2 linked regions of the Homo sapiens genome follow. The protein of the gene in region 1 interacts with the protein of each later gene in a pairwise test. Each region holds a gene or a part of one and is shown on either strand. Other genes may lie near its edges.

What was found. The genes of interacting proteins can lie anywhere in the genome.
Region 2: the proteins of KIF5B (region 1) and PRKAR2B interact in binary tests that used the Homo sapiens proteins (3 or more experiments, as listed by UniProt).

The regions. Positions count from the first base shown.
Region 1 is NC_000010.11:32,046,405-32,053,432, reverse strand, and holds part of KIF5B (kinesin-1 heavy chain), read left to right. Parts: intron 1-2,909; exon of another isoform or gene 2,910-3,123; intron 3,124-4,881; coding exon 4,882-4,969; intron 4,970-7,028. UniProt on the Homo sapiens protein: Microtubule-dependent motor required for normal distribution of mitochondria and lysosomes. Can induce formation of neurite-like membrane protrusions in non-neuronal cells in a ZFYVE27-dependent manner.
Region 2 is NC_000007.14:107,145,697-107,152,724, reverse strand, and holds part of PRKAR2B (cAMP-dependent protein kinase type II-beta regulatory subunit), read right to left. Parts: intron 6,418-7,028; coding exon 6,264-6,417; intron 1,804-6,263; coding exon 1,702-1,803; intron 1-1,701. UniProt on the Homo sapiens protein: Regulatory subunit of the cAMP-dependent protein kinases involved in cAMP signaling in cells. Type II regulatory chains mediate membrane association by binding to anchoring proteins, including the MAP2 kinase.

The DNA.
Region 1 (7,028 bases):
TTTTTTTTTTTAACGTGTAACCAAAAATACATTACAACTGAATAACATAGCCTTAAAAAATGAAAGGCAACATGTTTTGGTTCATTGTTTTCAGAAACTAGTTTCTTGCATATAGTAACGACATTAATTATTGAGGTCTCATATTTTTGTTCAGTTTTTTAAATGAATTATTTCATTTTGTAAAAGGTTATAAGAGCAGCCAGGAGGAGCGGAATTGGAAAATCTGTGGGTAAAATCTTCTCGGTTTGGTTTTTTCATTTTACTGGTTCCTAATCCTGATTCATAATGAACAGTTTAGGAGAGAATTGCTGCAATGCAGCATTTAAAACTAAATTTTTAAAAACATGATTTAAGAACATTTTGTATACAATCTTCTATTTAGATCAAAATTGAAAGAATATTGTAGTTTATGATGTTAGAAGCATAATCAGTGCTCATGGAGAAAGTAATTTTTAAGGATTCTGATTTTCTTATAACTTGAGTTTTTAATACTTTGTCTAAACTTTTTTCCTGCTACTCATGTAATCAGTGATTTTAATATGACACCATGGCAGGCAAATCTTTCATAGTGTTTCTGTGTATGCTGTACAGCCTTTAATACAGAATTTATTTTTAATTAAGTGCTTGGTGAAGTGCTATAAATGTAACATCGAATGAAATGAATTATTTTATGAAAGTCTTTAAGCGATATACATATAAACTATTTGCTTTAAATTAGAGAACTTGTTACCGCAAAGCAAGGAGGACAGGGAAACAGTTTATGTCTTTGAAATGAGCTTGCTGGAAACACCAGAAAAAAATCAGTAGAAAAAATTAGGAGCTTGCTAAAAACACCAGGAAGAAAAATCAATAAAAAAATTACATCTATCTATTTATGAATCATGAAAGTAGAATATGGTTATTTGCATCATTAAGTATCTTTACAAATCATTATTCCTTATATGGTACACCGTAAAGGCTGCCAAAAACAAGCTGTGGTAGTTCCGAGAAATTAGAAGAGAATAAAACTAATTAGATAATCTTGCCCAGTTCCTTGCCTAAGCAAAACAACATTCTCGCTTTTCAAGTGAATGATTTGGTGTTTGAACCTTCTTGATTACCTTAAGAGGGAAAAATGAAGGAGAGGAGGGAACCATCATCACATACCTTTACAGTTGTGGAATGTTAGCCCACTATAGTGTTTAACTAAGGAAAATCTAATATAATACACTCCCAAGTGATCTGAAATGATCCGCTATTCAGAATTCCAGAGAAAGACATATCCCTGCCAGAAGGGTGTCCTTCATAACCAAATTTGGTCTTCAGTCTGGTCGGTGCATACTCAAACAGGAATCACTTCCCTTAAGGAACCTAAGGTATGCAGTTGAGATCAACTTATTCCTTTTTGATTTGTCCCCTTAAAGCATCAATCAGACGTGAATGCATCTTGTGACTTGGAGTTACTAGTAATATTGAAATCTGAAACTTGGGGGATCTTTGAAGACACATGGGATTAAAAGCTGCATAATGTACATTTCGAGGCTAAAAACCAGGTTTGAAAAATACAGATGTCCAGATGAGTTTTTCTTTAATTTATTTGAAAAATAGAGATATGCCTTAATTATAGACCATTAGAAATAATTTTTGTGTTTCACAGAGTCTTGATTTTCATTCCAGGAAGCCAGAGTCAGTAATTTATGGCTAGATCTTTAATTAAAACATTTGCCTTACTTAGTATTACAAAATCATCATTTGGTTTTGCAATCAAGATAAGACTGTTTTGTCAACTTAATGCTAAGCACTTAATTTTTATTTAACAATAACTTCTAGAAAGATAATCACTCCAGTCTCAATTATTTTTATGTTTGTGTGTTACCTTTTAATAGTTGCCATTTATATTATTTTAGTAAGGTTGTAGTGGTAGTTTATATATTTGCTTGGAGTTGATAACTAGAGTAAGCAGCTTCATAAAGTACTTCTGAAGGCAGGCTTTACTATTAAAACTGTTTACTATTATGAAGCTGTTTACATTATTTCTGGCATATCTCTTGGTAAATGGTTTAGGGGCACTATTTTCTATTGATGTAAAAATTGAGGCCAGGCATGGTGGATCACGCCTGTAATCCCAGCACTTTGGGAGGCTGAGGCAGGTGGATCACTGGAGGTCAGGAGTTTGAGACCAGCCTGGCCAACATGGCAAAACCTCATCTCTACTAAAAATACAAAAATTAGCCAGGCGTGGTGGCACATGCCTGTGGTCCCAGCTACTCAGGAGTATATTTGTAGATACATATAAAATTCTCTTGACATTACTTGATCACTTATATTAGATCCAAGTGTATAACTTAACTTAGTATTCAGGTTTTTATCTGGCCTTATCCTCTATTACTCTTTGAACCCTACAGTCTGTACTAATTATTTCTAAAATTGTGTTACTCATCTACAATATCTCATATCTTTATAGTCACTAAATGAATGTCTGCTGGATAAATGAGGGAAAATTACTTTCTTTTTGCATAGAAAAAACTATTAGTATGGTTTGTTTTTGGGTGGCGATTGTTATTTTGATTGTACTTAACGTTTGTTTTCAGAATTGTTCACCATGAATATATCTTGTGTCAGCAGTAAAATAATAGATTTCTTTTAGTCACACCTGTAGAATTGAATGTTAATTGTTTCAGTAGCATCTGAGAAAAGGATACGTTCACATATGTCACAACTAAAGAATAATCAGACATCGATGCCTATTTTAAATTGATGCCAAAGTGAGATCAGCTTCTTGTATCTGTCAGTAATGCTTTCAGCTTTAGAGGAAAAACCAACAGCTAATAGTGGCTTAAATAAATAAGAGGATGTTTTTCTCACATAACAAAAAGCCTGGATATAGGCCCTTCACGGTTCCTCACTCTGTTATACTTTGTCGTCCTTAGCTGTTGCTTTTCATCATCCTGTTTGTCGTATTTGCAAGATGGATGCTACAGCTCCAGGCATTCATTCCAGGAAGGAGAAAGGGCAGTTTTAGCTGAGATGGTCCTTTTTATCAGGATAACAACACCCTTCTCAGAGACCTCGAACAGACCGCCACTTCATATTATTCAGAGCTTGGTCATGTGACTACTAGTTGCAGGGAGACTAGGCTAACAGGTATTTGGCTTTCCGGCCTATTTATTGGGAGGTAGCAAGGGAAAGGGGAATTGGGAATGGCTTTAGGAGTGTCTGGTTCATTGTTACTTTTATTTCAGACTTTGAAGTGGGGATGTGGAGGGTAGTAGGTCTTTTTCAGCTAAGACTTAGGAAGTGTTTTCTAATGTTAAGGGCTTTTTCTGGGGTCATGATTGTTTTGTGTTTTAGGGCCCAACTTCCTTCCTTTCCTTTAGGAGAAACTAGAGAGCAGGCAGATACTTGCAAATACCTAGAACCCCTTGCCTCTTATTTTTGGATACCTACTCTTTCTCCTAGATTATTAAAATTGTTCCTGCAAGCATTTAAACTACCTCAGGTCTTACAAGTCTTAAAAAAAAAATAACTTTCTTAGACATACAGCAGATTTTCTGCACCACTTGGTTACCTCCCATTCTTTTTCAATCCATTCCAATCTGACCTTTGTCATTGAGTACTTTTTAGTTTTGTCTTGGCCTCACAACTGTATTTGACATAATCACTCCCTCCTTGAAAATTATTATTTTTTGACTTGCATGGACACCACTGATTTTTTTTTTTTGTTCAATACCCCTGGCTCCTTCTCAGACTATATTAGTGGTTCTCTGAGAGTGGTCCATGGAGTCCCCAGTATCATTTCTGGGGTCCAGAAGATCAAAGCTGTTTTCAGAATAAGATGATGTCTTTTTAACCGTTTTGATATTTGCATTTGATCCTTGCTCCTTGTACTTCAACTTAACAACTTCCATTGGTTTCTTGAATGCTACACTGTTCTTTCTGCCTTAGGATCTTTAAGTATCCTCCCAGTGCCTAGACTACTTTCCTACACGAAACCTTTTTCACCCTTCATGACTAATACTGGGGAGAGTGATGATGAGTTAGTTGCTGCGTATTTTTCAGTTCTTAAATATTCTTTCTCCAAGGGTGTTTCCGTGATATTCTGCTTTCCCGTAGACTTAGGTTCTCCTCCTATATTCTCTCATTGCACTTTCATAGCACTCAATTGCATGAGTCAGAATTCTGGTCACTTAATTTTTTAATGTCTGCCCCACTATTATTTATGCTCCACTAAAGCAGAGAGGGAATCTCTTGGTTATCATTCTAGCATGTCATCTCACATTCCATAAGTATTTGTTAAATGAAAGAATGGTTGAAAAGCTGTTGCAGGACAGGCATGGTGGTTCACACCTGTAATCCGAGCACTTGGGGAGGCTGAGGCAGGAGGATCTCTTGAGCCCAGAAGTTCAAGACAAGCCTGGGCAACATAGCATGGTGGCACATGCCTCTAGTCCCAGCTGCTCAGGAGGCTAAGGTGGGAGGATTTCTTGAGCCCAGGAGGTTGAGGCTGCAGTAAGCAGTGATTGTGCCACTGCACTCCAGCCTGGGTGACAGAACCGAGACCCTGTCTCAAAAATAAATAAATAGGTATTTAAAAAAATAAAAATCACTCAGCAATATTTGGCTGCCATAGTAGTGCTAATTATAATTACTGGGAATTATAATTGTAATTACTGGGCCCTGGGAATGCAGCAAAGACTAAAGACCATTCTTGTTTTCCTGGAGTTTATTCTAATGGATTTGTGCATGGTGATCCCTTCTACTTCAAAGATTCAATGATACCAAATTATGCATACTAGGTATACTATTTTGAGGATTAAATATATTATATGATGGCATCTGTAAAGGTTAGAAATGTTCATTTACCTTTAATTTGTATAGTTGAAACACTTTTTTGTTTTTCAGTCCAAGCCTTATGCATTTGATCGGGTGTTCCAGTCAAGCACATCTCAAGAGCAAGTGTATAATGACTGTGCAAAGAAGATTGTTAAAGGTAAATATATTCAACCTGCTGAGTTGTCTCAGCAATAAGTAAATAAGTTTGTGATCTTTTCTACTTACTCAGCTTCCTTTTTTCATTTTAATGCCCCTTTCTTCTAAGTTAATTGCAGAAGAAAGTTGTTTAAATAATAAAAAGGTCAAACACAATTAGTAAATATTCTATTGCTCAAATTCCATGATCTAATTATATACAGTACCTAATTAAGGTTATTATGAGAACTATGTTACACACTTATTCTTAAGAGATGCATTTCTGTTAGATATTCCCAGGAGAGTTTCCAAGGTGGCAGTTCTAGAAAGAGAACAGTATGAGAATGAAAACAAAAGGGCTAGACACATTTCTAAAAAGTAGTGGAAAATGGCAGTCTATCATTCTTCCATTCCATTGTTATTCCTTCCCCAAAGACTTACCTATCCCTTGAGGAATTTAACAAGGGTTGCCAAGGGTGAGAAAAGTATGTACATTCCAGTTAATACTATAACTTATACAAGAATATTTATAACTTTATATATTCTAAAACCATTGAATTTTAAAGCTGAGAGAGTGCTCATTGTTTATCTGGAGTTACTTCCAGTTACTGTAGAAATCTGTTTAATCAAAGGAATGGCTGTTACTTTGTGATATGATTTATTTCATTTTTTGACAGCTGTAGTTGTTACAAAGTGCTTCTTAGATTGAGGCAAAATCTGTGTTGTGGCATTCACCACATTAAAAGAATTGGGATTCAGTATAAAAATAGGTGGATTAGGATAGCATAGGAGCACAGATGCTCATCCTAGTAACAGGAGATAAAGTGGAGTTATAGAAGGTTTATAGATGAGGTGAGGGAGGGAAAATGTGTATGTACTCATTATATCAATTTCATATTGTCTAATACAGGGAGCAAAGTCATCATGGAGATGAGGAAGGGGGAAGAGGTTCTAGGAAAAGGCATGAAATGGATGGATTCAGGCAGTGTGAGAGTATTGCCAGGCAGTATTAAGGGCCCACTCAAGGTTAGCTGCTGAAAGAGTTGAATTTTTGCCCATTTGGAGTTTTGCTAGGTGAGTACAAAAGAGGGAAGTGGGGGACAAGAGAATTGAGGATATAGTCAAAGGAGTGATTATAATGGTGGACCATGGGATCTAAGGTGGTTAAGTTACAGGAAGAAGGATATGAGGGAGGCTGAAGGGCAGTGAAAAAAGGTGGTAACATTAGTGGGTTGTAGATCTCAGTGGGGTCAAAGATTTGTTGGAATCAGGGTACTGGACGGAGTAATAGAAGGTGAATACAGACAGTCCCTGACTTAGAACAACTTAAAATTGTTCGACTTTACGATGGTGCAAAAGCAATACACATTCAATAGAAATATTCAATAGAAATATTTCTAGTACCTGTACAACCATTCTGTTTTTCACTTTCAGTATAGTATTCAATAAATCATATGAAATATTTAACACTTTATTATAAAATAGGCTTTGTGTTAGATGGTTTTGCTGAACTGTAGATCAGTGTACGTGTTCTGAGCACATTTAAAGTAGGCTAGGCTAAGCCATGGTGTTTGGTAGGTTAGATGTGTTTGATGCATTTTCAGCTTAGGGTATTTTCAACTTACAGAACATTTATCAGGAAGTAACCCCATCGTAAGTTGATTAGTATCTCTACTTGAAATTGAGATTATGGAAGCAATGCAGTTAGTAATGAAAAGGTAAAGGTGTTGTCATGGAGTTGACTTCCGAGGTAGTAAAGAAAGGATAAGGCCAGACATGGTGGGTCACACCTGTAATTCCAGCACTTTGGGAGGCTGAGGTGGGAGGATTGCTTGAGGCCAGGAGTTTGAGACCAGCCTGGGCAACAGCGAGACCCCATCTCTGTTTTTAAAATAAAAATGAAGAAAGAATAAGATCGCAGAAAATTTGGTCAAGGAGCTGAGAGGCCAGGTTATTTTAGTGGGATTATCTGCTACAGACTTTGAAACCACCAGTACTGTTTTATTACAACAGTAATGGTATTGGTGAGAGAGAGTGAACTGGGTACTGACATCTTCATAAAATGAAGGGGAATTAACACT
Region 2 (7,028 bases), on another chromosome or scaffold:
ACCAGATGTAAGCTGATAATCCAACAGAGACATTCAAAAGGAGAAGCACTGCTGTTTTGACACTTGCCATTTTATAAGATGTTGTGGGTACATATATATGCCTGTCTTTAATTACTCTCAAAATACTTCAAATATGACAGTGAAATAGAAAAGCATTTAATTTAATGATGAAGTATGGAAAATGAAGCTGAATTTTTAGGGTAACAACAACCTACTCTCTCTCATAAGTCTCTACCTTCAAAGATAAAAACCTAAGAGCTGGTCTCATTGAGAAGACCTCTGGGCTGAGAAATGAAGGAGCCCTGCAGCTGTGTAGGAAGACATTCCAGACAGACGGCAAGTACAAAGACCCCGAAGTGGGTGTGGGACAGGTGTGTTTGAGGAGTGGCAAGAAGCTGATGTGTCAACAGAGAGATGATGAGTGTGGAGCAGTAGGAAATGAGGTTGGGGAAAATGGGTGGGGGAATGGGACAGTCTGTGCAGAGCCTTAGAGGCCATGTGAGGAGGAGCTTAAATAGAGCAGTGCCACAACCAGGGATTTTAAAAGATGACTCTGCAATTAGCCAGGCAAGAGGTGATGGTGGTTCATATGAGTCAGTGCTAACTCGAAGGTTTTTGGCCTGAGACACTGGAAGGATATGTTGCCATCTGCGGGGAAAGAGAAAAGGAGTAGATTTGGGACATACTAGGTTTGAGATGTCTATTAGACATCTGAGAGGAAATCTTACATTTGCAGTTGGATAAGTAAGTCTGACCTTCAAGGGAGGGGCCTTGCCCAGTGATATCAATTTTAAGAAGCATCAATATATGGACAGTACAGGTGGTCCCTGACTTACAGTGGCTTGATTAATGATTTTTCAACCTTACAGTTGTTTGAAAGCGATAGAAACTATACTTCTAATTTTGAGTTTCGATCTTCTCCCAGGCTAGCGATATGCAGTACAACGCCAGGCAGAGAGCCACAACGCCCAGCCAGCCTCACCACAATGAGGTGAACAACCCATGCTCTCCAGTGCACTGTGCTGCCAGGTGACTGTTCCCAGCTGTAGGCTGATGTGAGTGTCCTAAGCATGTTTCAGGTAGGCTAGGCTGAGCTCGAATGTTCCATAGTTTAGGTGTATTAAATACATTTTCTATTTATGATATTTTCAACTCACAATGGGTTTATTCGTAAGGTAACCCCATAGTAAGTCAAGGGACATCTGTATTTAAGGCCATGGGATTCGACATGTTCACCAAGTGAATAAGTGTATCCTGAAAAGAGAAGAGGCCAAGGACAGAGGCCTGGAATGCCAGTTTTAAGAGGAGAAGAAAAGAGGAATAAACAGCAAAGATGACTGAGAGGAAGAGGCCAGAGAGGACATTCTATATCTAGAGAACGCCTCACTGTAAAGTTACAACTAGTGGCTCTTGTCTACATCTATGTGATTATATTAAGTCTGCTATCAGATAAAGACCACATATAAATTTGCTATAGATGCTGGGTAGGAATGTATTACTTTCAAATAACAAAACAAATGAAATTATAGATAGCAGAAGAAACAATGAGTTATAAAAATTAGCACTACCATTTAATCTTTTCAAATAAAAACATGGATAGATTTTTTTTTATTCAAAGAAATTTTTCTATAGAACTAAATATTCCTAGCAAAACAGAAACTTTTAAAGCAAAATAAAATAAAAGCATAAACATATACTTACCTCCAAAGATTTAAGGAATGGCAGTGACTCAATAAAGCTTTCATACATTTTTCTCTTTTTGGCATTGTTTTTCACAATTATTCTCCTGAAGGTTACCCTGTCCTACAGGCAGAACAGTTAAAGGGTAAATTTTATGGGGGTAAAGCTATACAAATAGTTTTATTTTATTCCCTACAAGAAACAATGATTGAAGATTCTGAAATAAAAGATTAACATCATTATACTTTTAATGCAACTCATTTCATATTTTTATTTCGTCAAGCACAAAATATAATACAGAACCACATAAAATACTGTTTTCTTTTTTTTTTTTTTTTTTTTTTTTAAAGAAAGCATCTGTTGACTTTTTATACATAACAGAAATCTGACCAATATGTTGGGTTCTGCCCACAAGGAGGCGCTGTCACAGCATTTTTAAATATGTATACTAGCACTCTGTTCTTTTACTCTGTTATGTACTCTACGTTCTTTTTCATATCCACATTATGTCAAAATTTTCTTGTCAAAAATGTGGAGGGATGCCCAAAGAAATTATAAATGCTTAAAGTGATGGCTACTCCATTTACCCTGATGTGATCATTATATATTGTATGCTGTTATCGAAATAGCTTATGTACCCTGTAAATATATACACATAATATGTACTCATAAAAAAAATTTTTATTTAATGTGAAGGCACAGAGAAACTACAACTATGTTTTTGAGTAAGATCTAATTCCAGTGTTTACCATGTTCACAGTCTAAAATGTTCCTGTTTATACTATCATGCCCTCAAAGATACAGAACTCGGTTGAAGAACTAGTAAAAATTTTAAGGATACAGCTCAAAACATTATTTTCCTAAAAATTTTATTTTAAATAATTTCTCATAAAATATTTTAATTCTTTAATAAAAGCCTCAATAATTATGTTAGATTGGCATTCATTAATAAACAATTATACCATTTTAATAAAGTAAAAATTGGGATATATTATTTAATAAATTACTATGCCAATATTTTAATTTTTTTTTACTTTTATTTTTAATTTTTGTGGGTACATAGTAGGTGTATATTTATGGGGTACATGAGATGTTCTGATACAGGCATGCAACATGAAATATGCACATCATAGAGAATGGGGTATCTGCCCCCTCAAGCATCTATCCTTTGAGTTACAAAAAATCCAATTACATTTATTTTAAAATATACAATTTTATTATTGACTATGGTCACCCTATTGTGCTACCAAATACTAGGTCTTATTCATTCTTTCTTATGCCAACATAATAAGGCTGAATTTAAATGAACTAGTGCAATGGAGAAAAATGCCAGTATAGATGAAAGTCTCTAGGTGTGATGGACTGCAACTGAATGTTTCTATCACTCTAAAATCCCTCTGTTGAAATCCTAATCACCCAGGATAGTATTAGGTGGTGGAGCCTTTGGAAGATGGTTAGGTCATGAGGCTGGAGCCCTCATGAATGGGATTAATGTCCTTATAAAAGAGATCCCAATGAGCTCCCTTGCCCCTTCCACCATGTGAGAACACAAGTAGAAGACGCTGTCTGTTAAACAGGAAAACAAGCCCTCACCAGACACCGAATCTTCTGGTGCCTTGATCTTGGACTTCTCAGCGTCCAGACCATGAGAAATAAATGTATGCTGCTTAAGCCACCCATTCTATAACAGTCTGTCATAGCACCCCAAAAGGACTAAGACACTAGGAAATTAAACATCTTGTTTCCCAATTTGGTATTGGCTGTAATTTGGACTTGTTTTACTCCTAATACTTTTTTTAAAAGAAAATTTTACAAGATAATTAGCACAAATATTGAAATTATTTCCAAGCCTGGCTCTGCATCAGAATAAGCTATAGTATTAAAAAAGATTTCTGAGACACCAGACCTTAATGACTCAAGATCTCTGCATGTAGGGCTCAATAATTCATAAATGCTCCCAAAGTGATTCTGATATGTAATCAGGTTTGGAAATCAGGTATAACACCATTGTATGGACAGCGGTTATTGCAAAACAGAGAAGACTCAAAATAGCTTAATGATTTAGAAACTAATCATAATCAGTTATATCTCTCAGAAAGAATTTTCCATTAGTAACCTACCTCTTCACACCCACTGTGACATATAAAGTCCAGAATTTCAAATACTTTCATCCTGAAGCCATTTCAAAAATCACCTTTCCAAATCATCAGTATAGTCACGTAGATCATGTTAGCCCTAAGGCTAATAGTGACCAAATATTATTTACAGAGTGAGACTATTCTGCAATGGACTTTTCTCTTGGGCTTTTTTTGCTTATCTTTACACACCTGTATTTATAAGGCAGACCTCCAGTCTGTTGACCTTAAAAGAAAAATTTATTTTCTACTCGACTCTCCCTGAGAAGGAGTTATTATAATTAGTCAAGTCACCCTTAAAAAGTAGGCTTGAAATACTAAGTAATTATGTTAATTATTCTAACTTTTTTAGAAAGCTATTATATGTCAGGAGGATTATCACAAACTGCCCATTTTTATAAAATTTAATAACATGTATAGACTACTAAAAAGCTCTGAAAATGCTTAATCCTATCTTAGGAACTTAAGTAGTACGTGCACTAGGAAATTCTGGGTCTTTTATACCCCATTAAAGTTTCTACAAGGGCTAAAAACTATCAGTATTCAAAGAGGCCAACCTATAAAACAGTTGATCTTATTCTGAAGATGTGCAAGGAGGCAGTTTCCTCACTGTGTGACAATCTGACAATCTGAATCTGAACGGCAACCCCATTGGAATGACTACATTTGAAAAGTAAACCTTCCTGAATAAAACAGGTCATGGCAGATGCTAGATTTATCCCACCACTTTAATTACAGGCAGACAAAGACTTCTGTGGGTGAAGGACTGTCCTGGTTTGAAGTTTTTTCTTTGCTGGCTTTGGGTATTCAAATCACTGACAGTTCTTTCCTTTTCCTGAGACAATTCAGCTTTTCCTCTAAACCTTAAAAAAGTGACTCATCACATTTTTAAATAAGTATATAATAACTGGTTCCAATTAAAAGAAATGTAAAATGTCTTGTCTCTTTGATCAAGAGATATTTTTTATCAGCTGAATTGACTTCAGAGTCAAATGCTGAACTGTGACTAAATAATGTGTGACTTCCACAATGCTATATACAGTAGTCCTTGGAAATGAGACTTTTAACAGACTTCATATTTACTTCAACCTCTTCTCTTTCCACAAAAGGATTTGAGAGAAATAACCCAATAAATGCATGTCAAAACTAGTGGGTGGGCTATTTTCAACAATTTTAAAAGAAAATACATATACTGTAAACATTTCCCTAAATCGATGCTGTTTAAGGTTTGGCCTGACATCAGGCAGTACTGCCATCTCCTGGGAGCTGATGAGAAATGCAAAAATCACGGGCCTCACCCCAGAACCACTGAATCAGAATCTGCATTTTAACTGGATTCCCAGGTGATTTGTAAGCATATTAAAGTTTGAGAATCACTACCTTAAATACAATCCTCCAGAAGGAGCTTTAGTAGTGCCTAATAATTTGCATCCTATCATATGTGAAAATATTGCCCGAATGTATCTTTAAACCAGCTTTTAAGTCTTGCGGGAATACCACATTAAGAAATGTATTTAAAAGTACTAATGCTCAGGTCCCAGTGCTGAAGATTCTGATCAATTTGCCCATGGTGAGGTCTAGGTAAGAGGATTTTTTTTGAGACAGAGTCTCGCTCTGTCGCCCAGGCTGGAGTGCAGTGGTGCAATCTCAGCTTCACTGCAAGCTCCGCCTCCCGGGTTCATGCCATTCTCCTGCCTCAGCCTCCTGAGTAGCTGGGACTACAGGCACCCACGACCGTGCCCGGCTAATTTTTTGTATTTTTAGTAGAGACGGGGTTTCACCGTGGTCTCGATCTCCTGACCTCGTGGCTAGGTAAGAGGATTTTAAAAAAATACTCCAGGTAATTCTGATGTGGGGCACATGAGCACAGCCACCAAGCATTTTTTCCCTACACAACTGCTTTTAAATGCAGAGTAGTTACCAATCAATTTATAGCACCAAGAGCATCCTTTTATACTGGTTTCTCAAACTCCGAATTTCTGATGCAGTAGGTCAGAATCAGTGGGTGGGGCCCCAGAATGGGCATTTCTAAAAAGTTCCCAAGTGATACAGCTGCCAGTGTTCAGGGGACCACACTCTGGGAGCCACAACTTTATCAGATTATAATACTTACCTCAGAAAGCTATCTGAGAAAAAGTACTTAAGGCTGTGTTTGTATGGCTGGTTATTTTCTAAGAGTGGGTAAGACAGGAGCATTCTGAATCTGAGTGTCTTTCCTGGGCCACCAGGTCCCAAGCTCCTGACTGGACTGGAGGAGTGGGGGCAATGACATCAGGATCTGACTTAGTGAAGTCTTAGTGCCCTACAGTTCAGCATTCAGTGGCTGCTTAATAAATTACCTGATGACTGATGATCTTTAAATTAAAATACTACATGCGGCAATTTGTAACACCGTCATAGCAATTGCTACAAATCATAACATTCAGGTCAAATAAGTATTTTACTCACCAAACCCCACAGAGCACCAGGAGAGGTAGCAGTGATTGTAGCTGCTCTGGGTGTATTGTACATTAAGGCCAGTTCGCCGAAACTCCCACGATTATCATAGTTACCAACACATCTTCCAACACCATCACATTTCACATAAATATCAAATGTGCCTCTGTTGGACATATGTAGATTGGAGGTTAATTCAAATAAAATATCATTAAAATAAAACATTATTTCAGAAAAGAGCCCTGTGAAATAAAAATCTTATTTCCAGCCTGTTATCCCCTCCGATGACAATAAAGGGGAATCAATCTGTGCCATCTGTTCCAGACCATGTGCCTGCTGGGAAAAATGGGACTAAACAATAAAAATTTGGAATAAGGAATGATAAAACTATAACTAAAGACTACAACCAAATAGTATATGCATAAAAAACCATCTGGAGAGGCCGGGTCTCACACCTGTAATCACAGCACTTTGGGAGGCTGAGGCGGGTGGATCACCTGAGGTTAGGAGTTTGAGACCAGCCTGGCCAACATGGTGAAACCCTGTCTCTATTAAAAATACAAAATATTAGCCGGGTGTGATGGCGGGATCCCATAATCTCAGCTACTCGGGAGGCTGAGGCAGGAGAATCACTTGAACCTGGGAGACGGAGGTTGCAGTGAGCCGAGATTGTGCCACTGCACTCCAGCCTGGGTGACAAGAGCAAAACTCCAACTCAAAAAAAAAAAAAAAAAAAAAAATCATCTGAAGAGGCTGGGTGTGGTGGCTTACTTACAT